4 linked regions of the Homo sapiens genome follow. The main gene of each other region encodes a partner of the protein of the gene in region 3 in a complex. Each region holds a gene or a part of one and is shown on either strand. Other genes may lie near its edges. The genes, in order: FBH1, POLD3, PCNA and FEN1. A codon is read from its position in the direction of its gene.

Region 1 (9,104 bases), on a different chromosome or scaffold from region 3:
CCATGAGAGCTTTGTCTTATGGTATCCTTGGTGTTAAATGCTATTTTAGACATTAGTGATACAAAAGTGAATAAGCCTACCCATAAGGCAGCTACCAAAACAAACACAAGTTACTAAAGATAAAGTAATATAACAACTACATAAATGCATGCATGAAGTGTTATGATAGTAAAGAAACATAAATAGAGTTAGGCAAGTTGAAAAAGGCTTCACGAAGAGTTGAGTCTTGAAAGAATCATGGGATTCAGTAAGGCGGAAGGAAACAATGTGTGCAAAAATACAGAGGCATTAACAATGCACTAGAGTGGCAGGAAAGCTGGGCTTCATCAAAACAAGAGGTTCCCTGATGAGGAATGACAGGAGATAAGGCTGGAAAAGGAATTTGGAGCCACAGACTACAAAGGTCCTTACACATAATGATAAAGAAATTGGGCTTCAAAAAAAGAAATTGGACTTTATCAGGTAGGGGCTTCAAGGTATCATCCAATTTTGTTTGTTTGTTTGTTTTTTGTTTTCAGACAGAGTCTCACTCTGTCTGTGGTCCAGGCTGGGGTACAATGGCACAGTCTCGGCTCATTGCAACCTCCGCCTCCCAGGTTCAAGTGATTCTCCTGCCTCAGTCTTCCGAGTAGCTGGGACTACAGGTGCACACCGCCACAGCCAGCTAATTTTTTGTATTTTAGTAGAGATAGGATTTCACCGTGTTGCCCAGGCTGGTCTAGAACTCCTGAGCTCAGGCAATACACCTGCCTCGGCCTCCCAAAGTGGTAGGATTACAGGCGTCAGCCACCGCGCCCGGCCTCATCCAATTTTTAAAGCAGGGTCATTACACAATCAAATTTACACTTTAGGACAGTGACTCGGGAGAGAGGATAGAAGGTGGAGAGACATGGAGATTGTCAGGAAAACAACTCAGAAAGCCACCATATCAACCTATGTGAGAATTGGCAAAGGCCTGAGAGTAGCAGACCCTGCAGGTGCATAAGAACATGGCTTTGTTTGACAAGACAGAAAGATAAAAGATAAAGAGCAACAAGGATAACTGGCATTTCTAGTAGAACATTCAAAGAGATGTTAATGTCATTAACCATGTTAAGGAATAAAAGAGAAACAGTGTTTGTGTTTTAATCACTTTTTCCCCCGGAGTGAGAGGGAGGCTGAAAGTCCTAGTTTTAAAAATAATTTCTGGCTTTAAGTTATCTGTGGAATACCATGTTTATGCTCCAGGAGGTCCTCTGAAATCTGAGACTGGTCTTCAAAAGGCATGTGAATGACAGTTACAGATATAAGATTTGAGATGCTTTCTAAAAGTAGGTAATTTCACAGCCAGAAAGGCAAAGATGGAATCCAAATTCAGTTTCCAAATAAAATCAGCCTAGGAGGGATAGAGGAATGAGATAAGCAGCAAAAAGATGATGTCAACAAACCCAAAATTAGAATTCTAAATCTAATACCAATAGTGGTGTCTACACACACTCACAAATCACGAAACCTGTCAAATGATCAGTGTACCAATGGGCATGCTCAACAGCATACCCATGAAAAACAGGAGGAAAAGGAAGGGCAGCCAAGGAGCAAGTCGGTGCCAATGACGACTACATGTGACGTGACTGTAAAGGCCAGACCACAACCTCCAAAAGTCTGCACGAAAGAAATGAGCAGCCCAACCGGAAAACAGCAAGACCCAGGAAACAGCTCCATCCATTAGCTTACTGTTCAGATCCCGCCCCTCTAGACCAAGCTTTTGCCCAGAAAATCACAGGAGCTGCGGGACAGATTCACATACATTATCATTTAGTTATCCAAAGGGGGATACAGAGCAAAGAAGGTTCATAGAGAAGACACAAGAGGCAGAATCGAATGTGCAACACCAATGAAGTAACCAATTATCCTGGGTTCAAATATTCCAACCTGGCTAGGCACGGTGGCTCACGCCTGTAATCCCAGCATTTGGGAGGCCGAGCTGGGTGAATTACTTGAGGCCAGGAGTTTAAAGACCAGCCTGGCCAACATGGTGAAACCCCGTCTCTACTAAAAATACAAAAAAATTAGCCGAGCATGGTGGCACACGCCTGTAATCCCAGCTACTCGGGAGGCTGAGGCAGGAGAATTGCTTGAACCCGGGAGGGGGAGGTTGCAGTGAGCCGAGATCGTGCCACTGCACTCCACCCGGAGCAACAGAGCGAGACTCTGTCTCAAAATATATATATATATTCCAACCTACTGTGAACCCGTGTGTCCCAATTATGTTTAAAAAACAGGGAAACTAGAGACATAATGCAAGAGAAGATAGTCATCTGAAACTGGGAGAGGGGCAGGGGTAAAAGCAAAAAGCATGAAGCTACCAGATGCCTCAACTTCCAATTTGCACTAACTTCAACGGCAGCAGAACACTGCTTGGCACGCCCTACACTTTTGTGCATTTCAAACAACTTTTATGCCTTCCTTTTTTTCTTTTGCTGGAGTGACAAGGCACGACAGAACAATAACCTGAGCAAAGCTGGTACTTGGACTAGTTCTGTCTCCAGAGGCTATCCACATCACTGTTACCTTAACCAAACTCAATCTGCTCATGAGTAAAACGGACTTATCTTCATGGGCCCATTCCAGAAGTCTTTTCATTTATCTCCGCTCATTTTACCACAGCGGCAGACGCTGGCGGACACTCAACACATGCTACCATCCTGCCTTCCAGAAGACTTTATTACCTGTAATTCTGTAAGAAAGTCACTGACTTGGTTAGGCCTCCACTTCCCCACCTGTAAAACCCTACTGATGCCTCATAGGGTTGTCTTCGGACCACAGACTGCAATAAAAAATGTAAACGGCACTCGTTTTTAGGCCTGGCAAATAGGAGCTACTCCCATTCTACTCCCTAAAGGAATCGAAAACATGGAGAGGTTAAGTGACTGGCACCTAATCAGATCGGGTAAGGAACCCAACACCTACTGATCTCTTCCATCACCCACAGCCTGCCCAGCTCTCGCCGTGCCCTCCACCAGCGCCAGGCCTCCCACATCGCCTTAGGCTTCCCATGCTCAGAGGAGGGGCAGAGAAGCTACCGATGACACAGGGGCAGAGGGCAGCGAAAAATGACTTGCCCAAGGTCAAAACGTCAGAGTAGACGGGAAAGCCTGGCCTCCTAGCAGCCGAGGCCACGTCCCCGCGCTTGCCCCTTCAGCCCCGAGGACCCACACGCTGCGCCTTCCTGGCCTCGGGGGGCAGCGCGGGGGCCGCTCCCGACCGAGTTCAGTGAGCGCCCTGGCCTCCCCCGCGCACCCCCGCCGCGCCCTCCACCTGCCCACGGCCCGGACGGCCGAGCCCCCACGCCCGCGCTTGCCCGAGCCCAGCCTCGCGCCCCCGGGGCCCCCGCTGCCCCACCCCGGGCCCGGACCCCCCGCGCAGGACCCCGGAGGTTAAGTTTTCCACACGGCGGAGCCCCTCCCACACTCCCTGCCACGTCTGCGGCCTCACGCACTGTGGCGCTCCGGACCCGGACCCCGCTGCCGCCGCCGCCGGGCCCGCGCCGCCGGCCGCTCAGCCCAGCGTCCCCCGGCAGCGAGCTCCTCCTCTGGCCGGGACCTGGAGCCCGAGACGCCCGCCGACTTCCTCCGCGAGCTCCGCCCCGCCGCAGCCCCGGGAAGCGCCCGCCGCCGGAGCCGGACTGACGGCCCCCGCGACCAATCGGGACGCGAGACCGGAGGGGGCGTGCTGACGGACGGCCACTAACGCCAATCGAAATGCGCAATCGGTGGGGGCGCGGCCACAGCTACCGGGCCACGCCCCATCCGCGCTTCCGCTCGGGCCGGGGCGGAGCGGGAAACTTTCCCAGAGTTCCTTCGAGCTCCCCGAGTCCCCGCGGAGCAGCGGCGGTCGAGGGGCGGGGACGGGGGCGGAGCCCAGGAACGCCGGCCCCCAGGGGCTGGAGGCTGGGGCGGCCCTGAGGACGCGTGCGGGGCAGGTCACGCTTGGGCCTGGCTGCCTCAGGAGCCACCCTGCACGGCGCCGGGCGAGGCTGTGCGCGCCCTCCCGGACCCTCCACTTTGGGGCTTTGCGGTGTAGCGGCGCGCCCCACTCCCTTACGTGTTCAGTCCCGAATCACGTACGGGCCGCTGCAGCTCCAGGACGGCGGACGCCAGCGCTCTCGGATCCCCAGGCCCCTCCGTGCTCATCCCGGACCGCTCCGTCCCTGAGGAAAAACCGCCCCGTGCCCGGAACCGCGGCTTCTCCCACGCGGGGCAGGCCGGGGCTGTGAGGGGGCAGCCCGCCTGCGGACTAGGCCGGGGGTTTGAGGAGGCGGCTCTGCCGGGGACAAAGCCGGGGGCGTGAGGGGCGGTTCTGCCGGGTTCGGGGCGCGCGGGGCAGGTTGCGTGAAGAGGCGGAAAGTCCCACTCGCCCTCGGCTTCTCCCTGCCCGGCCGCCGGTGTCCCGCCCGCCGCCTCCCCGCGCAGCCCGGCCCGACCCGCGGCGATGGCCCAGCCCGGGGACCCGCGGCGCCTCTGCAGGCTGGTGCAGGAGGGCCGGCTGCGCGCCCTGAAGGAGGAGCTGCAGGCGGCCGGGGGCTGCCCGGGGCCGGCCGGGGATACCCTCCTGCACTGCGCCGCGCGCCACGGGCATCGGGACGTGCTGGCCTATCTGGCCGAGGCCTGGGGCATGGACATCGAGGCCACCAACCGAGACTACAAGCGGCCTCTGCACGAGGCGGCCTCCATGGGCCACCGAGACTGCGTGCGCTACCTGCTGGGCCGGGGGGCAGCGGTCGACTGCCTGAAGAAGGCCGACTGGTAGGTGTGGAGCGGAAAGACACCCCGCCTCCCCTCTACTCGCAGAGTCGTAGCGAGTTCCCTGTGCTTCTCCGTCCCCTTGGACACCGTAGCTGTTCTCAGCTCCTAGTTCTCACCCCAGGCCTGCTCAGCGGCAGGGACCTCCTGCCCAACTTTCCCTTATAACGCAGATGACCTGCAGAGTCCCTCGTTCCTGCCCTTGTGGGTTAACTGGTCGGGGCAGTCACCTCCCTTTCTAGAGCACGGAATAGTGTAGAATATAACCAAAGAGAATGTTACCAAACAATGAAGTGTGTGCACTATACAGATAGCCTCCGGATGCGATGTTCTGGGGACATTTAGCTAAGTTACTTCTGCACCAATGCATTGTTTCAAGTGGCATTGCTCCAATCAATATCCAGAATTCCTGAGTTATACACGCGCTCGTGTGTGTAGAGCACAGTGCAGTTGTATCACATACGTGCAGCCTTGCATAACCACCACAGTCAGAGATACTCTGCTCCACCATCACACAAGCCAATTGCATTTCGTTTGTTAGATTGACACTGATTTTAGTACTCACTAGGTCAGGTTCGTTAGAGGGCGTGAACATCTTTAGGAACATAGGGAAGTACATCTTCCCCACTGGGGCAGGGGAATAGACTTCGTTATGTGTTGAGGGTTGTCTGTGGGTTTTCTTAGCTCTGCTCCAATTCACTGCTATCCTGTGAACTAGCTTATAAGCTGCTTTGTCTCCCAGGCACCCTCTCCTCTAGGTACACGTTCGTTACAATCATTTTCCCCTTATTATTTCTCCCAGGGTCCTCACAGAAGGCACAGAGGTTGCCGGTCAAAGCTGTTTTCCTGCCTGCCAGACCCCTGAATCCTCTAGGTTTTCCATCTGTGCCAAGGATGTGTGTGTTTTGAAGACCTGGCCCCTGGCTTCTAATGTCTCAGCTGCCTCCATCTGACAGCTTCTCCTGGTTGGCCTTAGGACTCCTCTGATGATGGCCTGCACAAGGAAGAACCTGGGGGTGATCCAGGAGCTGGTGGAACATGGCGCCAATCCACTCCTGAAGAACAAAGATGGCTGGAACAGTTTCCACATTGCCAGTCGAGAAGGCGACCCTCTGATCCTCCAGTACCTGCTCACTGTTTGCCCAGGTGCCTGGAAGACAGAGAGCAAAATTAGAAGGACTCCTCTGCATACTGCAGGTACAGCCTACAGCTCTGCAGGTGAGCAGTACACACATGTGGCTGCTTCACCCAGCACTGCCCAACCGCATCTTGTTCAGGTCACCTTCAGGGGAAAGGAGGATTTTGGAAAACAGAAGGCAGAGAATAAGAACATCTGGGGGGGAGGGGGTGGGGGCGGGGGCGCGGGTGCAGTGGCTCACGCCTGTAATCCCAGCACTTTGGGAGGCCGGAGGCGGGTGGATCACCTGAGGTCAGGCGTTCAAGACCAGCCTGGCCAACATGGTGAAACGCCGTCTCTACTAAAAATACAAAAAATTAGCCGGGCGTGGTGGCGGCTGCTTGTAATCCCAGCTACTGGGGAGCTCCAGAGTCTGAGGCAGGAGAATGGCTTGAACCCAGGAGGCAGAGGTTGTACTAAGCCAAGATTGCACTACATTACACTACAGCCTGGGCAACAAGAGCAAAACTCCATCTCAAAAAAAAAAAAAAAGCATCTAGGGGCCTTTTGGCATATAATCAATTTCTAAAGTTAACATAACTTGGCTAGCATGCTGTGGTATTAATTTATTTTTCGTGTGTATCTGTGTTATCCTCCCTAGATTATTTGCCCATGAGCTGGTTCTGTAGCACATAGTCTTTGACCTTGGGTAAGGAAATTAGTCTCTCTCTTGAGCAAGTTTCCTCATCAACCAAATAATAATGTCAGTGATGGTATGTCTCAGGGTTGTTGTAGAGTTTAAAGAGCATGATGTATGTAAATCCTTTAGACAATGCTTGGCACATAGCACAAAATAACTGGTTAGTGCTATTTTCTTTATCATGTTTACATTCTTACTCTTAAAGGCAGGAGGGAAATATATATCCTCATAGCCTTAGTAACACCTACCATAGTGCTATACTTTTAAATAAATATAGATACTCATAATTAAATACCTTGGCCCAATAACATCTAATGTAAATTTGGGTTACAGTTTTTATTATTTGGAGTAGTGACTCTTAACTCTGAATTATCTATTTGTAGATTATTTTAGTAAAAAGTTTCAATTTGCTCATTTGTTTGAAGAAAGTAAAAAGAAAACAATTAGTAAAAAGTAAAATTACTGTAATTTCAGAAGTTAGATATTAAGGAGCTCAAGAGTCTAGATTAAGAAATTCAGAATATAACTTGTAGCTTTCTAGGTAGTACATTGATTAGGATAGAGGGCTTTTAGTTTCTCTAAAAATCATCACTTGTGATGTTTTATAGTGTTGCTTTTTGTCTTTTGTTTTTTTTTGAGACAGAGTCTTGCTCTGTCACCCAGGCTGGAATACAGTGGCACGATCTCGGCTCACTGCAACCTCTGCCTCGCAGGTTCAAGCAATTCACGTGCCTCAGTCTCCCGAGAAGCTGGGATTACTGGCGCATGCCACCATGCCCAGCTAATTTTCATATTTTTAGTAGAGATGGGGTTTCCCCTTGTTGGCCAGGCTGGTCTTGAACTCCTGACCTGAAGTGATCCACCCACCTTGGCCTCCCAAAGTGCTGGGATTACAGGCATGAGCCACAGTTGGCAATTAGGGACCAAGGAATCATTTCTAAAACTTCTTAAGTAAGTAGAAAACTTTTTTTTAGCTCATGAATTATTTGACCAGTTTCTCCCCTGGAGAAACAATCAGCACTCCATCATTCACCCAAAATAGTGGAAGACAAATAGTCATAACCTTTGAGTATAGTTACTTTTAGTAGGGGAATTAAATCCAGGCTATTTTGCCATGGATTACTGTTACAATATTTTGCATTTCCTGGGCAAAAATGGACTAGTCTTGGGGATCCACAGCACAGAAGTGTAACTTTAGGATTGAAAGTTTCCCATGAAAGTGCACGTGAAGATAAGATAATCAAGTGTTGGCTGTGTACATATAAAGTGAAAACATTATTGTTTACCGCTTTATCCAGTTAAATATTTATTCGTGTAGGGCGGTAACAGTGTACCCAATTTAATGACTCCTTCTTGTAAGCTATCACTAATAGAACGGGGCAGAGAGCAAAGCCAGGAGGCAGGAAGCATTTTGTGTGTGCACTAAAAAGCTCTAATTCTCAGCTTTCTTTCTCCTCCCAGCAATGCATGGCCATTTGGAGGCAGTCAAGGTGCTTCTTAAGAGGTAAGAACAATACAGCAAGTCAGGGAAAATATTTGCTAACTATGACAAAGAGTTGATATCAGTGCTACATAAAGAGCTCAGACACATTTTTAAGAAAAAAATTAGGCTTTCAAAAGAAAAATGAACAAAAGACATAGCAGATAAAGAATATGAAACAAAAATAACAAATATCTGGGGAAAATGTTTTCAGCGGCAAAATCATCCATTTCTCTATTTTTTTCAACGAGCATTTATACATTCATTTAGTGCTCGGTGGCTCACGCCTGTAATCCCAGCACTTTGCGAGGCCGAGGCGGGCGGATCACAAGGTCAGAAGATCGAGACCATCCTGGCTAACACAGCGAAACCCTGTCTCTACTAAAAATTCAAAAAAAATTAGCCGGGCGTGGTGGCGGGCGCCTGTAGTCCCAGCTACTCAGGAAGCTGAGGCAGGAGAATGGCGTGAACCCAAGAGGCGGAGCTTGCAGTGAGCCGAGATCGCGCCACTGCAGTCCAGCCTTGGCAACAGAGCAAGACTCTGTCTCAAAAAAAAATAAATAAAAAATAAATAAAGCCCTGTACCAGGTGCAAGGGCCACAACAGAAAGAAGACACATGTAGTTTCTACCCTCCTGGAACTCAACAGACTGGCAGGAAAGACAGACCATGAAGGAGTCCCGAAAGTCTGTTGTGCATTACAAGGACTTGCAGGATCCCTACAGAACAAATAATGGGAAGACCCAATTTGGCTTAAGAGTAAAGAATCTCAGCGCCAGTGTTTAAGCTGTGACCTGAAGGAGAAAAAGAAATTAGCTGAAAGCGGGAGGCAAGGGACCATTCCAGACAGCAATAACAGCACCCACGGATGCTCCAAACCAGGAACAACTGTGGTACATTTAAGAAAACAAAAGACGCCTAGAATATGCTGAGCCTGAACAGTGAAGGGGTGGGAGAATGAATGCTATCAGCCACATTGAGGATTTTCCTTTTTTTTTTTTTTTTTTTAGTTTTTGAGATGGAGTTT
Region 2 (7,260 bases), on a different chromosome or scaffold from region 3:
TAAGATTTAGCACTTGAGGTTTGATGGGATGCTCAGATCCTGGTACTGTATTTTTGTGTTTGAAAAGAGTTGTGGGTTTAGGCTCTTACCTTTGTTAGTTGGATAGCCCATGGTTGTCATTTTGCCTTTTGTGGCACCTGCTACAGCTTGGATCTTCAGAGAAGATTATTTTCCCTGTTACTGATTTTTTTTTTTCCTAGTTCAGACTTGTTTTGAAAAGATTGGCTCTGAAGAATCAACCTTTCCAGGTTCTTAAAACTAGTGAAGACATTTTGTCATCTGTGCTCCCTGTCCCACTATTCCCCACCTCCCAGTCCTCTGAAAAGGCCTCTGCCATTTTAATTGTAACATGTGATTGGGGAGTAAAATTCTTTACGTGTGGAAATTCTGTCTTTTCAGTGCCAAATTTCTTGTGAACCTGTGAATTCTGGACTTTGAATGGGTTTTTTTTTTTCTTTTTCTTCCTTTTTTTTTTTTTTTTGGCTTTCAGTCTTTTAATAGTTGCCATTTTCAAGCCTCTTGGTTTGGCCATGGGTGATAATATATGTGTTTACTGTTGAATTTCTTAATTCAACAGTGCATTTTTTAAATTTAAGAGGACAAAAACATTGGTGCCAGTTTTTTCCTCCTCTTTCTGCCCCAAAAGAAAAAAGTCAAACGTCTTTGTGAGAGTGAGAGTTCATTGGGAATTTGTGGGTAATTATTTATTGCTTTGTTTAAAATATAGTACTCGAGTTTTGGCCAGGTGTGTGATGTGGACTTTTTTGCACTCCTGTCTCCAGACAGGACTGTTAAGAGCCTTGGATGCAGCAGTGAAAACTGTGCTCACATTGCACTTTTTTTTTTTTTTTTAAAGGTTTTTGGTCCAAGCTCAACCTAATGAATCTTGGCTTTGGTTACCAACAAAGGAGTTCTGCTTTCCTCTCTCTGCTCAGACTGTTCCAAATGTACCAGCATAGGGGGCTTGCCCTGTCCTGTGCTGGATCAGATTTGTTCTATGGGTTTAGAAAGCTCATCTTTCTCTCTTTGTGACTTTGCAGCAGAAATTGGGTAGTTGGGCCCCTGAGATAAGTTTGGAGTAGACTTCTGGACAAGGGAATGGGTTTCTAAGAGCAAAGCAGTTAAGTGGAAAAGAAATCTGATGTTACCCACGAAAACCAGGTTTGTTTGCCTTTTTTTAATGGCAACCCAGAAAAGTGGCATGTTGTTCAGCTAAAATAAAGGCCCTATATTTTTAATGGAGACCTCCTTTTTTCTGGGGTTTGCGGTAGCTACAGCTTTGAATATAGAAATATTCCTTTTAGTTCTTACAGTATACTGAATATGCTGCTAAAGAAATTTTGTTGGTGCTGCCCTGACTGTTTTTTAACTCCCCTGAGCAATGTCTCACACAAAATTGGCAATGAGACAGCCATTGATTTCATTAATAAGTAATGAAATAATGAGCTAATTGATGCTGAAGTATAATGTAGACATGCTGCCATTTGAGTACAGAATATAGCTTATGAAGGAGCAAAGTCTTATACCACCAACTAGTAGAAAGTAATTTCCTTTCTGTATCTGTAGATGGCTCTTCAGACTTTTCTAATTTAAGATATTGAATAAATAACAGCTCGTAATTTTGTCCCATTAATTCAGTTACATAATGCTTTTGAAGATGCATGTGAGATGGAGGTGGTGTTCTGGGGTCTAATTGCTGAACGAATAGGTATGCCATGGGAATTCTCTAATTATCTTAGAGCAACATTTCTCAAACTTTGCCGGCTATGTGCATTACTTGAAGATCTTGCTAAAATTGAAATTCTGCATCAGTAGGCCAGGAGTGGGAACTGAGAGTGCATTCCTAATAAGCTCATGGGAGATTCTGTTGCCTCTGGTGTGCGGAGCACAATTTGAGTAGTAAGGCCTTTCAGAATACTTAATATATATCTAAAATTTATCAGTATTTTTTAGCCTCTAAGTGAACATCAAAGTGAATTCTGGGCTCTTACAAAATTAAAGACAAACTCTGGGAACTCTCTGGGAAGGGATTGTTGATTATGCAGCCTTAATGGGATTAGCTGGATAAGAGGGACGGAATGCTCCAGTGGCAATTGCACTTCAACATTTAAAACAGGGAAGGAGAGAACATTAATTCCCAGAGTGTGGTCCCCAGACCAGCAGCATCAGCATTATCTGGGAGCATGTTAGAGAAGCAAATTCTCAGGTCCCACCCCAGATCTGCTGAGTCTGAAACTTGAGAAACAGAATCTGGCAATCTATGTTTTAACAAGCCCTCCAGGTGGTTCTGATGCACAGTAAAGTTTGAGATGATATCTTAAGTAGCAGAGTAGGTATTGGGACACACATACATTTGATTCCAAAGCTTATGCCTCTAGAACAATTTGATATATTTTATTAGAAAGAATTATCAATAAAAGCTCAAGACTGTCATTGTTCTTTAATGGAAAAAAAAACCTTTTACTTTAATCATTTGAGCATTTATTATGCATATTAGGTTACGCTTTTCAGCTAAGAACAAGCTCTTTTCCTTCAATGTTTCTCTATCGCTTGCTGCAACCAGGAAGGCTGAGAAAGAATTTAGATAGCATTGGTTATACAGCTGCCACAGCTCTCTAAAATTACAGAAAGGTGGCATGCTGTTTCTTGTGGTTGGTATATGTGTTGCAGTAGTGTAGATCCTCCTCGGTTATGTGACGTCATGGCTGGAAGCCACTATCTGTGCCTGTGTCCTTTGGGGCTTGCTCATAATGACTGCTTACTGTTACAGTTCTTTTCCAAGTTTCCCTTGGGAAGGGTTCAGTGAGTTTTAATAGCAGGGGAAAAGCAATTTATGCCTTCGGCTGATAGGGAGTAAGAAAACTGGTAACTTTGTTTCTCAATTTATCACTGTCATTCCTTTAACACGTGTGTCATCCGATAGCATTTGCTTGAGATAGTTAACCTTCATGATACAGACTACTACTAAATTTTGGGTTAATTTGCAGCCATTAAGAACTAAGAACCGAACAGTTGAGTAACTAATCTTCAATTCTCTGTACCTAGGATGTGCAGAGAGTGGGTGGCATCAGGTTAGAGCTAGACAGGAGGGTCCATGGTGACCTTGGTTAAACAGAATGGAGGCAGGCAAATAGGCCAGCAGTTTAAGACCAGTAACGGGAATAGGCAGGCATTGTAGGTCAGAGAGGTGATACTTAAGAAGCCAGTCAAAGCATGGAGTTAGAAGTAAGTGTTTAAGATATAGACAATTCGGATATAGAGTTCAGGAAGTTAGCCAGCATAGGCCAGGACCCAAATAAAGGATTTAGGCAATTCACTGATAAAGGGCCATTTAAAGGCATGGGATATAGCTGTGAGGGAGAAAAGTGAACGTTAATTCTAAGCATCAAATAGAGACTGTGTGAGCTCAGGATCCCACATAGTTCCTACCTTAGGCTAGATCTGATCTCCCAGTGGGAGAAAGATTGAGTCCTAAGTAAGCATATTTGCCTTGATCAGAGTCTGAAATGATTGGGGTTAGCAAGACATCCCATTTTCTTCATAGAGTAAATGATTCAGCCCACCCATGTTCCATTTTTTTCTCATCCTACCAGTGACTGAAAAAGTCTACGAGAGTGAATCCTGCACAGATAGTGAAGAGGAGCTTAACATGAAGACATCCTCAGTACACAGACCCCCTGCCATGACTGTGAAAAAAGAACCCAGAGAGGAACGAAAGGGCCCCAAGAAAGGGACTGCTGCTCTGGGCAAAGCCAACAGACAGGTGTCCATTACTGGCTTCTTCCAGAGGAAATAAACTGCCATCTCTGGTAGATCAGAGACTTGGAGTGGTCAAGGGAGAAGACCAAGAAATGTACTCCTCACTTACTATGTAAGTTCATCTAGATCTCCACCTCACCTGTATCAAAAGACTGTTCTTTCATCCTGTGAGGTTTATACTATTTCTGGTTTTTAACCAAAAGGAAATCATCTGGAAGCAGGAGGCAAAAAGCTGTTACCTTCTAATGACATTTAAAAAGCACAGTCTTTGACCTGTCCAGGAGAAGGATTTACTCCAAAATTATACTGGAACAGTTTTCAGAATTCTCACTGAAGCCATTTAGTGGCTAACCCACTGTGCTCCACTCACCCTATGCCCTGGTCCGCATATGGCACAGGAATTATTCCTTCTTGTTCCTCTGTATTCTAAGAATTCATGTGGGTGTTTCTTATCCTTACATTCTGCTGGATACGTTTACCCCTCTTGTCTTCCTGCAGTACCACACTTCTGTCCCCTAACCTCCTGAGGCTGTTCTCTGTAAGTCTTTTAAGTTTTGGTTGGACTAAAGGCTGAAGTGAAAATCTCCCTGTAATCCTCTTCCTCCATTATGCAGTACACGGACACCTGGCTACAGACCAGGACGTGGCTTGTGTTCTGTTCCTTTCACAAAAGCTCTCTGGGACCTTCACTTGCAATTAGTGGTTAGGGAAAAGCCTCAGGCAGAACACAAATAGAAATTTAATGATGTGTTCAACTCCACCAGAAATTACCTCGAGTCAGCATTGACGATATTGGAGGAGCTGCCGTGCTGCTGATACGGGGTGTGCTTTATGCTGCTCTTTGCGGTTTGTTGATCCCCTCCTCCCCCACTCTCAATACCTAGAGAGTGAAACCCGTACAATGAGATAAAGACTAAAAAGAGAAATCCCTTCCTATATACAGTGTGCTACATTTACAAAAAATTTCTCCTTAAGAAAACAGAATATTCAAAAACAGCACTTTTCCAGGAAGTTAGTGAGGAAGATAAGGCACACATTTATTTATAAATGGATGTTGCTCCTTTGTATTTTTAGCTTCCCTATTTGCTTAAAAGTACAGGCTCCCTAAGAGAGGATGGAGAGGGAGAGACTGAATTGTTAGTAGGTCTAAACATCAAAGAAAACATTTTTATTAGTTACTTATGGAAAATCATCTATTACAATGATAACCTTCAAGTGACTTCCATTATGGCTGGACAGGCGGTGAGCTCAGTGGATTGCAGTGGTGTGCTGGTGATTTTGCACAGTGAGCTCTGCGGAAGGGGTCAGGCTCAACTGCTGATGTGTCTCACACGTAGCAGACAAGGGGTGTCTGACTGGCTTCTTTTGCCTCAAGATGGTGTATGTCGTAAGTGATGCAATCAGCTGTCTGCTTTTTAAGGTTGGGATTGTGCTGACTTTGGGATTAACATGAGCTTCTTTAGCAACCAAGCATGAACTTGATTAAGACCAGAAGTTTGGGAGATGAGTCCTGGCATTATGTCTAGGACTAAAGCAGTGGCTTTGTATAGCAAGCTGAGTAAAGGTTGACATATTCCAAAACCCTTCTTTTTAAAAGGAAAAAGGATGGAGAGAAGGATGGAAAGCCTGGACTTAAACCTTTAGAAAAAACTTCTGGAGAGAAATCCCTTTTAAACAGTTACTTTTGTCATTGCCTCTGGTCATTTGTCTAAATAGGAATGGAAAATTAAAAGAAAAGCAACAATCCAATCTTTTTTCTAAAAATTATGCTGGGGTCTCGACTAAAACTGAATTTGAATTGGAAAATTCTGGTGTTGGTTGGAGTTCCATCTTGCAAGGGATAATACAAATCCTATGATCTCTATGCCCAATATGCTGCCTCAACTCTGAGCTGTCTGCAAGGCTTAGTAAGTATTGAGTGGTGTTTTTTTTTTCTTTTTATACAATACCATGTTAACCACATGAGTTAAATAAATTTGAGAAGTTGTTTTAAAACAGTGCTTCAAACTGAGTATCTGATGAGTCTCTTATTTGATGGATGGTAACAGTGTTGCAATTATTTAAGCTCTGAATGGGAAGAAGGCTGGTTTTCAGTTGATATTGTTAAAACTGCATACCCACAGTCTGAGATGAACAAGTTATTTGCTGCCTTCATCGTTTTTTTCAGCACTGGGGAAATGTTAGTTTCAGCCAACCTCATTTTTTAGTTCATCTAGAAGAAAATCTAGCACATTGTATTAGTTTGGCTTCATCACTTGCTAGCTGTATGACTGTGGGCAAGTTTCACAGCCTCAAGTTCTTTATCAAAATAAAACTAAAATGAGTTACCAAGGGTGTCAAGACTAAAGTCAAGTGTATGTAGCATGAATTCGGTCCATGTTGGCGGTCACATACGCGCTCTACAAAATGGTGGCTTTCTTTCTGATGTCATAAGTGATGTAATCAGCTAGCAGCTTCCTGAAATGTTATCAGTTATACGACCCAGGTGGTATATTCTTCAGTCATTCTGGCTGTACATGTAGTAAAAAGGGGAAGATAGTTGTCCTATTTCATGAAAGGTTTAAAGAGAGTAGATATTTTCCTACTGAAGGAATTATAGATGCCTATATTTACTGTTCATTTATTGTGTATCTACTATGTGTCAAGCCCATGACCTGGGGACTAGAGGATATAATAGAAACCATAGAATTTGGCACTTGATCCTCACAATTTAGTGGAAGGGAAAGCCAGTAAAATGAAATGACAGTGCCATATGTGAGTGCAATGTACAGGGTCCTCCAAGAGTTCCCAGGAGGATGGGTATCAAGGCAGTCTTCCTGGAGCAAGCAGTTCTTTGAATGATGAGCAGGATTTCACCCAGCAAAGAGGAATGGAAATGACTTTCCAGGCAGAGGAGCATGGCTTTTGGGAGAGGTGGGCTGTAGAACTTGAGAATAGGGAGGAAAATGTATTCAGAAATGAAGTTGGGGCCTTGCTAAGCAGTTTGGATTTGATTTGTAGATAATGGGAGCCAACTGAAGAAATTTAAGAAGAGTAACAGAAGTTGGTTCTCAGTTAAGAGTGACAGCCAGTATTTACTTTGATTTTGTATCCATGATAGTATTTCTACCCTTGCATATGCACATTGTATCTTAAAATTCTAGCGGGATTAAAGAAAACCATCTTGGTTAAAACAAGGCCGCTTAATTCTGGCAGTCAGCATAGACAATTGCAGTGTTTCCCTTGTCTTCCCCCGTCAACATAGATTTCTGTAGCAGAATCAATTTTTTAAAGTGATTTCAAAAGCTGGTATTTCTTCTTTGACACTCTCAGTGATGAGCCTCCACTCACCTCCCTGGAAAAAACTGGGAATTCAGGGGCAGAGGGGGCTGGTAAACGAGTGAAACAGTTCTCTATTCCTTTTCTATCTTTGTTTCTTTAAGAAGACATTAGTTATTATACAGGAGAGGGCTGAAGAGAAGGGCCATATAAGGAAACTAAATAGTTTCTCCAGGACATGAG
Region 3 (3,771 bases):
ACACAGTGAACTTGTAGCTATTAGTGGGAATGTTTTTAAGTCTTTCTTCACAACTTCAGGGCTTTTTCACTTTCTTGGTTGGATCCAACATCCGTGGAATTTAAGACATCTTCATCCTTTGAGTGAAGTTGCAAAGTGTACTTATACTAGAGAAATTTTGTACAACCATACTCCTTGGGCCCCATTACAGCTCTACTGAAACATCCAAGACTCTTGTAAGATTCCCCAGGCTAAAAAGAAACACTCCATTAACATCTTATAAAGCCCACACGACTTTCGGTACATTAAGCTTCTGAAGAGTATTAATTTTTGCCAAGTAAAATGAAATACACAGGATTTGTACTACTCTCTCACTTGTTCCTTGAGCTCAAATTGGAATAACAAGTTTGACAAGTGAATCCCCTAAAATATCTAGTAACCTACTGTATTTGAAATCCTTTTGATCTCCATCAGGCTGCTCTAAACTGAAAAACCATTTAAACGAAAGGGTAGCTGTAGCTGGGAATTCAGTAGGATACTTCCAACAGTCCTGGTCAAAATGAAGACACTGCCCTGTGATGTTTGAAATTCAAGTAACTTTATTTAAATTCAAAAACAATTCTTAAAACTGCATTTAGAGTCAAGACCCTTTTGTATTATAAAAATCACAAGTATTTCTAAGAGACAAAAATACTTCTAGGTTAACTAGACCAGATCTGACTTTGGACTTTATTCTTTAAACAAATTGCAGAGAATAGAGAAAAAAATAGGTTATTTACAGAAAACAATATCTACATATGTACTTAGAGGTACAAATTTGGTGACAGAAAAGACTTCAGTATATGCTGGCATCTTAGAAGCAGTTCTCAAAGAGCTTAGTTTTATTTTCTTGAATTTTAAGAATGCCTAAGATCCTTCTTCATCCTCGATCTTGGGAGCCAAGTAGTATTTTAAGTGTCCCATATCCGCAATTTTATACTCTACAACTGAAAGACAGGAAGATGGTTAATTACTGAGGAGTATGTATCACATATGACTACCTACAAAACAAGGTTCAAATTTATTATCTTACCAAGGGGTACATCTGCAGACATACTGAGTGTCACCGTTGAAGAGAGTGGAGTGGCTTTTGTAAAGAAGTTCAGGTACCTCAGTGCAAAAGTTAGTTGAACTGGTTCATTCATCTCTATGGTAACCTACAAAACAAAAGATTCATCATTGAAAAACATCAAGAAAGTTGCAATCTATTAGCTCATTATATATTTATAAAAACCCACAAACACTTGTATTGGTCACTTTGGAGGGAGCTATGAAAATTTTGAAGACTGATACATAAAGCAAAAGACTCGATTATCTAGCTTGTCTTTCCTATAGCTATAATTTAGATAACCAAATTATATAATATGGGAAAGCTTTTCTTTATGGAAGTTTTTCTAATAAGCAGCCAATAAGTGAATAAAACGTATTAATTTCAGCTCTGCAAACTCTAATTAATGACTTAATGGATCTAGACAATGACTATTATAGCTGCTAACATTGCAAACACATCCAGACACCCTGTGCCTCCTACTAGAGGCACACACCACCACCTATATTCTTGCTCTCTCACCCCCGAAACAAAACACCCTGAATATCAAGGCTCCAGGGCTATAGCTACCAGTCTGTAGGACACACAGGGTAGAGGAATTTATGTATACACAGGAATGCAATCAGCAAAATCCAAACTCTGGAAAACTTAATAAATGATCTAATTTCTTCAACAAATAGATTGTAATGGAAGGGGGAAAATGAAATTAGGGGAAACCAGGCTAGGTGTGTTGGCACACACCTGTAGTCCCGGCTACTTGGGAAACTGAGGCAGGAGGATCACTTAAGCCCTGGAGTTTGAGGCTGTAGTGAACCGACTGCACCACCGCACTCCAGCCTGGGTGGACAGAGCAAGACCCTGTCTCAAAAACAAAGAAAAACAGAAAAAGAAAAAAACGAGGTTGGCAGGAGTGGAAATGTGATTCAGGAAACAGATAAAGAATCAGCTCCTAGACTTTATTAATTTAAAAAAAAACCTTTCAACTGAATTTTACCTTTATTTAAACTAAATGTTGACTACCCATTCAAGGGACAAGAGAGCAATATATAGTATTTATTGTAAGCTTATAATATGCCACACACAGCATATGCTAAGCTCTTTAATGCTACCGTATTTAATCCTAACAAGGTTATGAGGTTAGGACCTTTGTCCTTGATTTACAAAGTTTTAATTTATGCCCAGGTTAGCGAGTTTTTTTTGTTTGTTTAAGATGGAATCTTGCTCTGTCACCCAGGCTGGAGGGGAGTGGCATGATCTGGGCTCACTGCAACCTCCGCCTCCTCGGTTCAAGTCATTCTCCCATCTCAGCATTCCAAGTAGCTGGGATTACAGGTGTGCGCCACCACACCCGGCTAATTTTTATATTTTTAGTAGAGATGGGGTTTTGCCATGTTCTTTCTATTTTGGTTAAACAAGGGCTCTCTAGGTACTCTCAAAGTTGCATGGAGTCTGCTTTCTAGCCTTAGTGAGAAGTCTCCTTCCTGTTTAACCTTTGATTCCTACAGCCTGTGACTTTGGCTAAATTGTCACTTAAGGTTGCTCAGCCTGCTTCTCCACCTTTAAAATGGGCTACCAATTGGACCCACAACATGTAAGCTAATATTAGGATTACATAAGTGCTCCAAACAGGTAGACTTTTACTCCTAACCATATCCTTCTATTGAGCTGCTGTCCTATGCTCAATTATTTGGTAAGAGAGTAAGTATCTCCAGAAAGCTAAAGGTTATACGCCTAACTTCCCAATCCTACCCTTAAGAGCCGGTGTGGACTTGATCCATAAACCACTGTTCTGTGGTATGTACACGTGCTGAATTTGTATTCCCTTCTTGCAAATATAATTCTAAATTGGATGACACTTATAAATCATTCGCAGATTTCAACAGTATCTCAATTTTCAGAAATTACTTGGGATCCAATTCTGTCTACTTTTAATTTTAGCAATTAACCTAATAAGCAGTATTATAATTCTCTTCAAACTATTTTCTTTTTACTTAAAAACTACTTACAGCTTCCTCCTCTTTATCGACATTACTTGTCTGTGACAATTTAATGTTTCCATTTCCAAGTTCTCCACTTGCAGAAAATTTCACTCCGTCTTTTGCACAGGAAATTACAACAGCATCTCCAATATGGCTGAGATCTCGGCATATACGTGCAAATTCACCAGAAGGCATCTTTACTACACAGCTGTACTCCTGTTCCTATTAAGAACAAAAATTTTCCAAAAGTTAATTGTTAGAAATTTAATGATTTGGCACCCTCACTTTCTTAAAAGGCAACACCTAAACAACTCAGAATCAATATTTTCTGATTACTTTAAAATATGACTTGCGTAATTTCTTAACAAACTCCACTCAAAAAAATAAATGGCTATTAAATGCACCATCCAGGGAACAAGAGCCTCCTCCTCCTCATCCTCCAGGGATAAAGTAAGAGAACATTAGAGTATGGCACAGAAATCATGATGGCGCAAGCAGGCCTAACTACTTTCTAAAAGAAAGCAAGAGAATATATTAGGCATTTTCAACATTCAAACATTTCTTCTCTCCTTTGGTGTTTATAAACCTAACCTGGATAAATTTCTTCCAAGTCAGCTTTAAAATCCACTTAATAAAAAGCAAGCATTCTAGAAGGAAACAAATTTTAAAAGAGGTTCATGGAAGTTAATGCAAATAGACAACTGGCAGTAAACAATAAATTTAACC
Region 4 (9,099 bases), on a different chromosome or scaffold from region 3:
CCAGTGTCTTATTCCAAAGTCTCAACTCAGCTGATTGCCAGGTGAACATCACCATCTTACTCCTCTGAATAACTAGACACAAATTACATAGCAAGTTCGAGTTTCTGCCCACCCAAGACACAGCCAGTAATCAGTCACAAACACAGACACAGCCAACTCCAGGGGCTCCAGCTTTCTGCCCATCTTCTCTCAGCAGTTCCTCCCATCTGCTAAGATGCGCCTTCCTGGTGGCTCTCTCTCAAGGTGGGTCAAGGCTGAACAAGACAGAAAAGCACAGTCTAGGTCCACCATCACCTCCCACTGGCCACCAGTTGGCCAGCCAGGAAATCATTTCTGTACATCTTTTGTCTCCCCCTTTTATCTCCCTCTCTCTTCTCCAAAACTTGTTGCTATCTATCACTTTCATGTAACAATGGACTTAGTGTCCATTAAACTGCCTGAGAAGTGGTTTGAGCCTGACATATTTTCCTGAGCTAAAAAAGGAAAAGTACCTCTGTGGCCTTCTTGCCATTAAGATCAAGTAAAAAAGGGACTAGCACTACTGAAAAGGGTCACGCTAGAAAAGCCTTAGAATCCTCTCTCCACCCCGTGAAGGTTTCTCTAGCTGTAGCTCTTAAGGGTACAAGACGGCAAATATTCTGGGGTGAAGGAGGTATAATGGGGAAACACATTTATTTTCCCCTTTTAAACTTCCCTGCTGCCCCAGTCTTTGCCTTCTTCTTAGTGGATCCCTTGGGTTCTGGCTCCTTGCGCTTAGCTGAAGAGAGTGAGCCGGTCACCTTGAAGAAATCATCCAGGCGGCCCTGGGTGCTGCCTTGGCGGCTCTTACTCAGCCTCTTGACCCCACTGCGGATTCGCTCCTCAGAGAACTGCTTTTCACCACACATGAACTTGATCAGCTCTTCTTCATTTGGCTCGCTCCACTTCAGCTCCACAGACTCTGGGTCCAGCACCTCAGGTTCCAAGAAGAGCTGGTGAGCCTCCTTGTGGAGCCAATTTTCTGGCACAGGGTACTTGTTGGGGTCAAGTCGCCGCACGATCTCCTCGATGCTCTTGTGCTTCTGGATGAGGTCCACAGCCCGCTTGGGCCCAATACCCCGGATACTCTCACAGTAGTCACTGCCTAGCAGGATGCACAGATCCACAAACTGTTCCTGGTTCAGGCCCAGCTCCTGCAGAATCCGGCTCAGGTGGAATTCCTGGATTGGCAGCTTTTTGGCTTCACTGGCAGTCAGGTGTCGCATTAGCACAGGGCTGCCGAAGGTGAGGCAGTCCATGTCCTCGGTAGCCGCAGCATAGACTTTGCCAGCCTTCACCAGGGCAGCACAGCTGGCCTCTGCCTCACTGGGTGCATCAAGATAAGGGATGCCCATGAGGCTCAGCAGATGTTTGCACTCATCATTGTGCTGCTTAGTGACCTTCACCAGCCGCTTAGTGAATTTTTCCACCTCCTGCTCGGCCCCAGCAGCCTGAGCCTGCTGCAGCTGCTTCTCTGCCTCAGCCCGCCGCTCACTGCGTTTGGCCAGCTCGCCTGACTTGAGCTGTGGCGGCTTGCCATCAAAGACATACACGGGCTTGATGCCGTTCTCCATCATGCGAATGGTGCGGTAGAACATGCCCATCAGGTGGCTGGTGGTCTCACCCTCCTCATTCTGCAGCACATCCCCACCCTGGCGAACAGCAATCAGGAACTGATAAATGCTCATAGAGGCATCAATGGCCACCTTACGGCCAAAGTAGCTCTTGATGTCATTCTCCCGGATGGCACTGGGGGCCACATCAGCAATTAGTTTGGCCAGGCCTTGAATTCCCATGGCAACACAGAGGAGGGATGACTAAAAAAGAAAGGCAAGTCAGAGACGGAGGAAAGGAGAAAGGTTATAACTGGTGTTATCTCACCAACTTCATGCCTTCAACTAAATTCCACACAACAAAAAGGACACCATGTCAGCACTGCTAAAGATAAAAAGATGAACAAGGTCCCCATTCTCAAAAAACTCAGTCTAGCAGGAGAATTTACTCAATAGTAAGGCTCAACGAGTACCAGAAATTGAACCACGTGCTTAGAGAAATAAGATACTGTTGATATTCTAAGGTAGCAGCATTATTTATTACACAAAAAAAACCTGCAACATAGGTCTCCATCAAGGACCACAGAAGGCCAGGATGCTTGGCCTGGCTTGAGGAGTCCAGGGACCATAATGGCAGACCTGAAAGACAGGCAAATACACCAGCTAAACAAACAGATCTGATTTGTTTTGAGTCTCTGGAGAACCCTGACTAATAAGGCAGCCTTGAAAAAGGATTGCAAACATATCTGAATGGAGGTGATGTGGCTTTCTCACAAGCTTCTCTAAACTCTCTTCATCATCGCCTCAGCACATAAGAGTTTCTACTTTTATTATAATGTTGCTAGAGTTTCAAGTCTTTCCCTTTGCGTTTTCTCGCCACCACTCAGTCTGAAATGTTAACTCCATGGCTCCTCCCCAGGTCCTGATTTAGGGGTCTGGCATGCTGTAGTCACTGGGCTCAAAAGAGTATTGCACTTCAGAGTTCAGTGTTTCCCAGATAGCAGTGTTTCCCAAATCACCCTCACGATTTTTGCTACTTCCAACTAAAACCCGTACTTTCATTCACTTAGAATTTTTTTTAAAAAACTAAACTGGAAAACTCATAAGCAATAATATTTGTGTTCTATTAGTTATATTTTAATATGTATTAAATGTATAACTATTAAAAAGGATTTTTAGGGGGTGCAATTTAAAATCATCTTGCCATCCTGGCCAACACGGTGAAACCCTGTCTCTACTAAAAATACAAAAAAAAAAAAAATTAGCTGGGTGTGGTGGTGTGCACCTGTAATCCCAGCTACTCGGGAGGCTGAGGCAGGAGAATCGCTTGAACCCAGGAGGCAGAGAATGCAGTGAGCCGAGATTGTGCCGCTGCACTCCAGCCTAGCAAGAGAGTGAGACTCCGTCTCAAAAAAATAAAAAACTCATCTTGTGCCCACTGTTGGTATGTGTCCAATACTCCAAGAAATATTCTACTGGGGCCAGGCACAGAGGCTCTGGGCAGTAATCCCAGCACTTTGGGAGGCCGTGGTGGGAGGATCACATGAGCCCAGGAGTTCCAGGCTACAGTGAGCTATGATTGTGCCACCACACTCCAGCCTGGGCAACAGAGCAAGACCCTGTCAAGAAAAGAAAAGAAGACAAAAGAAAAGAGAAAGAAGAAACGAAAGACTCCATCAGGCCTTTTCATTGTTCCCACTCTTTCTTCACAGGGTTCTTTCTAGAGCATCAATGACTGTTCAATTCTTCCTTCTAATTCAGTCCAAACACTTCAGCATGGCATCACGATCTTTCATGTTCTGGTTCCCAACCTAACCCTACATTCTGGGATCTCAACAGAAAGCTGGAATAAGGCCCGCCTTTTCCCACTTTTCCTTAGCTGTGCCCTCCTCTCGCCATCCTCTCACGCGTCCTTCCAGGTCCATCCCTGGATTATTAATCAATTAATAATTAATTGACAATGAATTATTCATTTGATTAATATGAATAATTCCCCTGTGAACTGCAGCGGCAAAAGCTCTGGCCTTGAATCTAGGCGCGGCATTTACCATCCGTGTGACATTACCAAGCCACTGAGGTTTATTTTCTCGTCTACAGAAGAAGAACGATTACCATGCCTGTCTCTCAGGGCTGCTGCCAGGGTTAACTGAGACAACAGACAGAAACCTCTAATGTCCCCTCTCCAGGCCTGTTCAACCCTTCGGCTCTTGCCTCAAGCCGGCCGCGCTGCTGGAGTGTGGACTGAGGACCAGACCATGTAGCCCTTGATCCCCTCACGGCGTCCCACAGACAGGTAGGCAGGAAAGGGGCCTAAACAACTCAAGTGTCAGAAATGTTTCTCGTCCAAGGTCTTAGGAAAAATACAACACGACCCCATAAGGTGGAACTTATTACCGCTTTTCTACAATGGAGGAAAGAGAGGCTCGGAGCTTACGCGACTGGCCCAAGGCTCACAGGGGGAAAAGTGGCGGGACCTCTTGACTGCGAATCCCGCGCACTCCAGACCCCGGCTCCCCACGGCCCCCAGCGCCAAGCGGACCCCGTCGCTCCCGGAGGCGCTTCCCATGGGGTCTCACCTGGCCTTTGGGACACGCGGCCTCGGCGGCTAAAGCTTGGTTCGGGGTTGCCCCGGGCAGGCGGTCCTAAGCTCGCTCTCCCTTCTCAGCTTAGCGGCGGGTGGCCTGACGTTCAGCCGCCTTCCAAAGCCCGCGCTCCCGTCACGTGACCTGCTCGCCACGCACAGCCTCTTGGGGCGCGTAGTGCAGGCTGCGTCCCCTCAGACGGCTGCTCTCATGGCAACCAGTCCCTCCAGGGAGAACAGAGTCTCTCAGCGACCCTGGCGTACCCTTCTCCACCGCTTGTCCCCACTCCACCCACACCAGGTCCCCGCAGGCCCCTGCTCCCTCTACACCCGAAATCGCAGGACTACAAGTCCCTCAATGCCACTTGCGCCGGAGGCACTTCCTTTTCCGGTTGTGCTAGGCGCCTGCTCCTGCCGACGTGTTCTTCCGGTGGCGGAGCGGCGGATTAGCCTTCGCGGGGCAAAATGGTGAGAGCGTTGAGGGGAGTTCCAGACGGAGATGCGAGGACCCCTCGGGGTCTGACCCACACCGCGCTTATCTCCTCAGACGCCGGAGATCCAGAGGGCTAGACGCTCCTGGAACCTCCGGCTTGGGCTGAAGGGTGGGGAAGGGGGAAGCCCCTTGCCATGAACTCCTTAGGTTTCTCAGCTCGCGATTTCTAAGGGCGAGAGGCGTGGGGCGAATTTTGAATACCTTCCAGTTTGTATATCTCTGTTATCGGTGGTGTGTTATCTTTATTTGGAAAGTTCTTCTGCCGAACCCGTGCCCATCCTACAATGCCCTGGGCAAATGTTTATTGGTGAAGCACTTCCAACTCTCAGGCACTTGGCCAGACTTTCCTAGGAGCGCCCACAGCCTCTGTACAGATCTCTGGCCACGTTCCATGGACTTCTTTGTTTTCGGCCACGCCTCCTAGTGACCACCGTCTGACGCGCATCTAGCTCTGGGATGATGTCTATTCATCTTTGTATTCTCAGTGCCAAACAGAGGGCCCGTAATTGGAAGCTCAATAAATGGCAGTGATTGTCTTTATCATTTTGGGGGAAGGGGGCCGTGATTGTTTACTGAATTGAATTCCAGTGTCTCAGAACAATGGGGGCAGTTTACTTCTCTAGAGTTGTTATGTTCTGGATTTTAGAAGCATTGGCTGACCGGTGACAATGAAGTTAACATTTGTACAGATCTTTACGTTTACAGCCCTCTTTCATAAAAGACATTATCTCATCATCTTCCCTACAGCCTTAGGAAGGAAGCAAATACCTGTTGAGCAAAATACTCCCTGCTAGGCACTAGATGCTTTGATTCATCATCTTTCTTATTTTTCAGTTCTGTGAAATAGATATTACAGTCGCTTTACTCAGACTCAGATTACTCAGAACCAGAACTTGAATGTCTTGACCATAGCTCACAAGATTCCATAATAGCATAGGTAGTGAGGAAAATACTGAATTAGAAATTGAGGGCCAGGCGCGGTGGTTCACTCCTGTAATCCCAGCACTTTGGGAGGCTGAGGCGAGCGGATCAGGAGGTCAGAAGTTCAAGACCAGCCTGGCCAGCAAGGTGAAACCCTGTCTCTCCTAAAAATACAAAAAATTAGCCGGGCATGGTGGTTCACGCCTGTAATCCCAGCTGCTCGGGAGGCTGAGGCAGGATAATCACTTGAACCCAGAAGGCGGAGCTTGCAGTGAGCCGAGTTGGCACCACTGCACTCCAGGCACTCCAGCCTGGGCGATAGAGCAAGACTGTCTGGAAAAAAAAAAAAATTGAGCCTGGGCGCGGCAACTCACACCTGTAATCTCAGTACTTTGGGAGGCCGAGGCAGGCAGATCACCTGAGGTCAGGAATTCAAGACCATCCTGGCCAGCATGGCAAAACCCCATCTCTACTAAAAATACAAAAATTAGATGTGGTGGTGCGCACCTGTAATCCTATAGTCCCAGCTACTCGAGAGGCTGAGGTATGAGAATCTCTAGAACCCGGGAGGCAGAGGTTGCAGTGAGCCGAGATCGTGCCACTGCCCTCCAGCCCGGGCGACAGAGTGAGACGCCGTCCAAAAAATGAGACTCCGTCAAAAAAAAAAGATATTGAGATCTGGGTACCACCAGTCAGTGACTTATAGCGGGGGTTCTCAGCTTGGTGTCTATAGACACTGGTCCACAAAGCTCCGGAAATTGTAGGCAAACTTTTTCTTGTATGTGGTTTTTCTCAGGCAGAGAGTTCGTACCTTTAGTCACGTTTTCATAGTGGTCAGATTATTGGCCTCAGAAAATGCTAATAAGGGCCATTGATCTGCAGCTACATTTCCGGGCTAAAATCAGCCTCTGTTTCACGGCAGCACCAGGCTCCTTGATAACCGCATGTTCTCTCCAGGCTGAAATCGTGGGATTCTTTGATAGCTCTGATCTCTTTCCCTCCTCTAGGAGCTCGAGGCCATGAGCAGATATACCAGCCCAGTGAACCCAGCTGTCTTCCCCCATCTGACCGTGGTGCTTTTGGCCATTGGCATGTTCTTCACCGCCTGGTTCTTCGTGTATCCTTTCACTGAGCAGCCAGAGGACCAGCATTAGTGATGTGGGAAGCTCAGGGAGAAACCACGCTAGGTACATGGACCCCGCCGGTTTTGTACATTGGATTGGGGCTGAGAGAAGGTAAGGAGGAGAGGAGGGCTAGTGATGCCCAGGGGCAGGTTATAGCCTTATTTCCCAAGTTCAGGTGAGCTCAGTTTGTTCTTTGGATTTCCAGGACAGTGAGCAGGGGACCTGGCTGGAGTGGAGGTGGGGAATAGGGGTGCTACAGTTGGAAAGGTGGTATAAGGAAGGGTGCACTCAGGTGTCAGGAGGTCTGAGGGCTAGTCCCAGCTCCGGCCCTCATGAGCTGTGTGACCTGGGGCAAGTGACCTAACTCCTCTGGGTCTCATTTTCTTCATGGCAGTGGAGCACCAGAGTCCAAGGCATCTCTTAGGCCCCTCTGCCTGGCTGCTCTGAGCCAGATAGGCCTCCCAGAAGGCATTGAGCCAATGCTTTTCTCCTCAGATTGCCGTGGGCTGGGCTCTCTGCACTCCACAGTCCACCCCTTCGCTTTGCCTTAACTGCTGTGCCCAGTTACGAGGTCACCTCTACCAAGTACACTCGTGATATCTATAAAGAGCTCCTCATCTCCTTAGTGGCCTCACTCTTCATGGGCTTTGGAGTCCTCTTCCTGCTGCTCTGGGTTGGCATCTACGTGTGAGCACCCAAGGGTAAGAGCTGCAATGGGATGGATGCGTGAGCCTCCAAGGCACAGCCCAGGGAAGCCTCCCCAGAGTCAGGTCAGCAGGGTCCTTAAAGCTCTTACCAGCATGACCCCTTGGTTGATGGAGACAGACTCAGTGGAATGGGTAGGGACACTAGACATTTGTGCCTCTTTCCCTGCCCCTCATACGGATTTGAGCCAAATGTGACTCTCAGTTCTGAGCTCACATGGCCCAAGGCCTCGATCTGCCTTTGGGATGTACCACCTAGAAGTGTGGACGCAGGCATCCCATGGCTGTACATTTACATTCTTAGAAGTCAGACCCCAGTGACTTGGAGAGGCTGCTGGGAAGTCAGCTGGCTGAAAGGGGGTCAAGATCCAGGGCTTAAAACTTGCTGCAGACAATCCACCAAACAGGCCACTAGGAATCAGCTCTGGTGGCTCATCCTCAGAGGTGTGTGCTCAATAGCCCTTGCCCCAGGAGCACAGGGGTGCAGGGAGAGAAGGAGGAAAGAAGGGCCATTGGTCTTATTTTGATACCCCTCTCCTCTTTTAGGTAACAACCAGATGGCTTCACTGAAACCTGCTTTTGTAAATTACTTTTTTTTACTGTTGCTGGAAGTGTCCCACCTGCTGCTCATAATAAATGCAGATGTATAGCAGTCCTGTCTGGGGCCCATTCTGCAGGGGTGGTGGGTGCTGGGACCTACATTGCTTCCCCAATCTCTTCCCTTTCCCATTTCTCATCTGCCTTTCACAGTTCCTGCTGCTGATCTACTTAAGGGGGATGAGATTTGTGTAGCACCGGTGTTTTGTCATTGGAATTTAAGGCTTACCTGTGGATAGGGTCTGGGCCTACCCTTTTCTATTGTTTCTAGGACAAACTTCTCTGGGAACCCACATCGGTCCATTCTGCCCTAGGCCAGTCCCTGCCATAAACATAGCCACCATTCTCTGTGCTGGGGCATCCTCACCAGGCTCAGCTTCTCCCCCTAAGAAGGCTTTTCTCCTCAGTGGCTACTTTTAATGCAGGTGGGCAGCAGCGGGTGCGCAGGAGGGGAAGGTGTGGCCATGGGAGAGGCTGATGAGTCCACTCCTAGCCCCAATATGAAGCTAAGAGGATAAGGGGTATGAAGCATCCATTTGGCCCTCTGGTTCAGGCGCTCAGAGATTCCAGGCTTCTCAGGAAGAACTTTGAATTCCAATTGGCCCTAGCCTTATAGGTGACTCCTCTCCCACCAGACCAATCCCAAGAAGAGACAAGGAGGCAAGCTCAGATACAAAGCAGTATTTATACATTTATTTATATATGTATATTTACTTCAGAAGAAACGAACATTTCGGGGACAGGAAGCAAGCAGGCCCGGGGCTGCTTCCCTCACTGCCCACCTCAGAGTCAGAGTTGGCACATGACAAATACCAAGCTCAGGGAGAAGAACTGGGAGTTAACTGGGAAGTAGGGGGCGCTCTATGCACACGCAGGCTTCTAAGGGTGCACGGTATGGGCAGGAGGATTTGCACTGGGAGGCCCTATGTACAGCTTGAAGCTAGGGGGAGATTAGCCCAGTGACTACAGGAACAAACGCCAAAGGAGAGAGAAGAAGGGAGGGATGACCTGCTGGACCCCAGGGCAGGGACAGGGCCAAGACACTCACACCATTGCCAGCCGGGCAGCTGGCAGCTTCCAGCAGGTGGCCCACTTACCTTCCCTGAAG

What was found.
Region 1: the proteins of PCNA (region 3) and FBH1 are in contact, whole or in part, in a crystal structure (PDB 8F5Q), measured with the Homo sapiens proteins. Residues at the interface, in NP_002583.1 of Homo sapiens: Met40, Ser43, His44, Val45, Ser46, Leu47, Leu126, Gly127, Ile128, Pro129, Ala208, Asp232, Val233, Pro234, Tyr250, Leu251, Ala252, Pro253, Lys254, Ile255; in NP_835363.1 of Homo sapiens: Ser56, Gln57, Arg58, Cys59, Ile60, Pro61, Phe63, Phe64.
Region 2: the proteins of PCNA (region 3) and POLD3 are in contact, whole or in part, in a crystal structure (PDB 1U76), measured with the Homo sapiens proteins. Residues at the interface, in NP_002583.1 of Homo sapiens: Met40, His44, Val45, Ser46, Leu47, Glu124, Gln125, Leu126, Gly127, Ile128, Pro129, Thr206, Ala208, Asp232, Val233, Pro234, Tyr250, Ala252, Pro253, Lys254, Ile255, Glu256, Asp257; in NP_006582.1 of Homo sapiens: Ala453 (codon at 3,752), Asn454 (codon at 3,755), Arg455 (codon at 3,758), Gln456 (codon at 3,761), Val457 (codon at 3,764), Ser458 (codon at 3,767), Ile459 (codon at 3,770), Thr460 (codon at 3,773), Phe462 (codon at 3,779), Phe463 (codon at 3,782), Gln464 (codon at 3,785), Arg465 (codon at 3,788).
Region 4: the proteins of PCNA (region 3) and FEN1 are in contact, whole or in part, in a crystal structure (PDB 1UL1), measured with the Homo sapiens proteins. Residues at the interface, in NP_002583.1 of Homo sapiens: Cys27, Asp29, Met40, His44, Val45, Ser46, Leu47, Ala67, Met68, Gly69, Asn95, Ala96, Asp97, Leu118, Met119, Asp120, Leu121, Asp122, Val123, Glu124, Gln125, Leu126, Gly127, Ile128, Pro129, Glu130, Gln131, Glu132, Glu201, Pro202; in NP_004102.1 of Homo sapiens: Arg19 (codon at 1,760), Phe27 (codon at 1,736), Gly28 (codon at 1,733), Arg29 (codon at 1,730), Lys30 (codon at 1,727), Lys80 (codon at 1,577), Val167 (codon at 1,316), Lys168 (codon at 1,313), Ala169 (codon at 1,310), Gly170 (codon at 1,307), Pro188, His208, Ser210, Arg211, Leu296, Lys297, Trp298, Ser299, Glu300, Arg332, Ser335, Thr336, Gln337, Gly338, Arg339, Leu340, Asp341, Phe343, Phe344, Lys345.

Annotation. Positions count from the first base shown.
Region 1 is NC_000010.11:5,884,721-5,893,824, reverse strand, and holds the start of FBH1 (F-box DNA helicase 1), read right to left. Parts: upstream 3,583-9,104; 5' UTR 3,480-3,582; coding exon 3,479-3,479; intron 3,151-3,478; exon of another isoform or gene 2,709-3,150; intron 1-2,708. Other genes in the region: ANKRD16 (ankyrin repeat domain-containing protein 16), read left to right, coding at 4,471-4,784, 5,758-5,978, 8,060-8,102. UniProt on the Homo sapiens protein: 3'-5' DNA helicase and substrate-recognition component of the SCF(FBH1) E3 ubiquitin ligase complex that plays a key role in response to stalled/damaged replication forks.
Region 2 is NC_000011.10:74,636,971-74,644,230, forward strand, and holds the end of POLD3 (DNA polymerase delta subunit 3), read left to right. Parts: intron 1-3,593; coding exon 3,594-3,796; 3' UTR 3,797-6,106; downstream 6,107-7,260. UniProt on the Homo sapiens protein: Accessory component of both the DNA polymerase delta complex and the DNA polymerase zeta complex.
Region 3 is NC_000020.11:5,114,398-5,118,168, forward strand, and holds the end of PCNA (proliferating cell nuclear antigen), read right to left. Parts: intron 3,268-3,771; coding exon 3,073-3,267; intron 1,176-3,072; coding exon 1,052-1,175; intron 966-1,051; coding exon 886-965; 3' UTR 556-885; downstream 1-555. UniProt on the Homo sapiens protein: Auxiliary protein of DNA polymerase delta and epsilon, is involved in the control of eukaryotic DNA replication by increasing the polymerase's processibility during elongation of the leading strand.
Region 4 is NC_000011.10:61,788,077-61,797,175, reverse strand, and holds the start of FEN1 (flap endonuclease 1), read right to left. Parts: upstream 4,266-9,099; 5' UTR 4,148-4,265; intron 1,836-4,147; 5' UTR 1,815-1,835; coding exon 672-1,814; 3' UTR 1-671. Other genes in the region: dolichyl-diphosphooligosaccharide--protein glycosyltransferase subunit TMEM258, read left to right, coding at 4,618-4,620, 6,574-6,683, 7,255-7,381. UniProt on the Homo sapiens protein: Structure-specific nuclease with 5'-flap endonuclease and 5'-3' exonuclease activities involved in DNA replication and repair.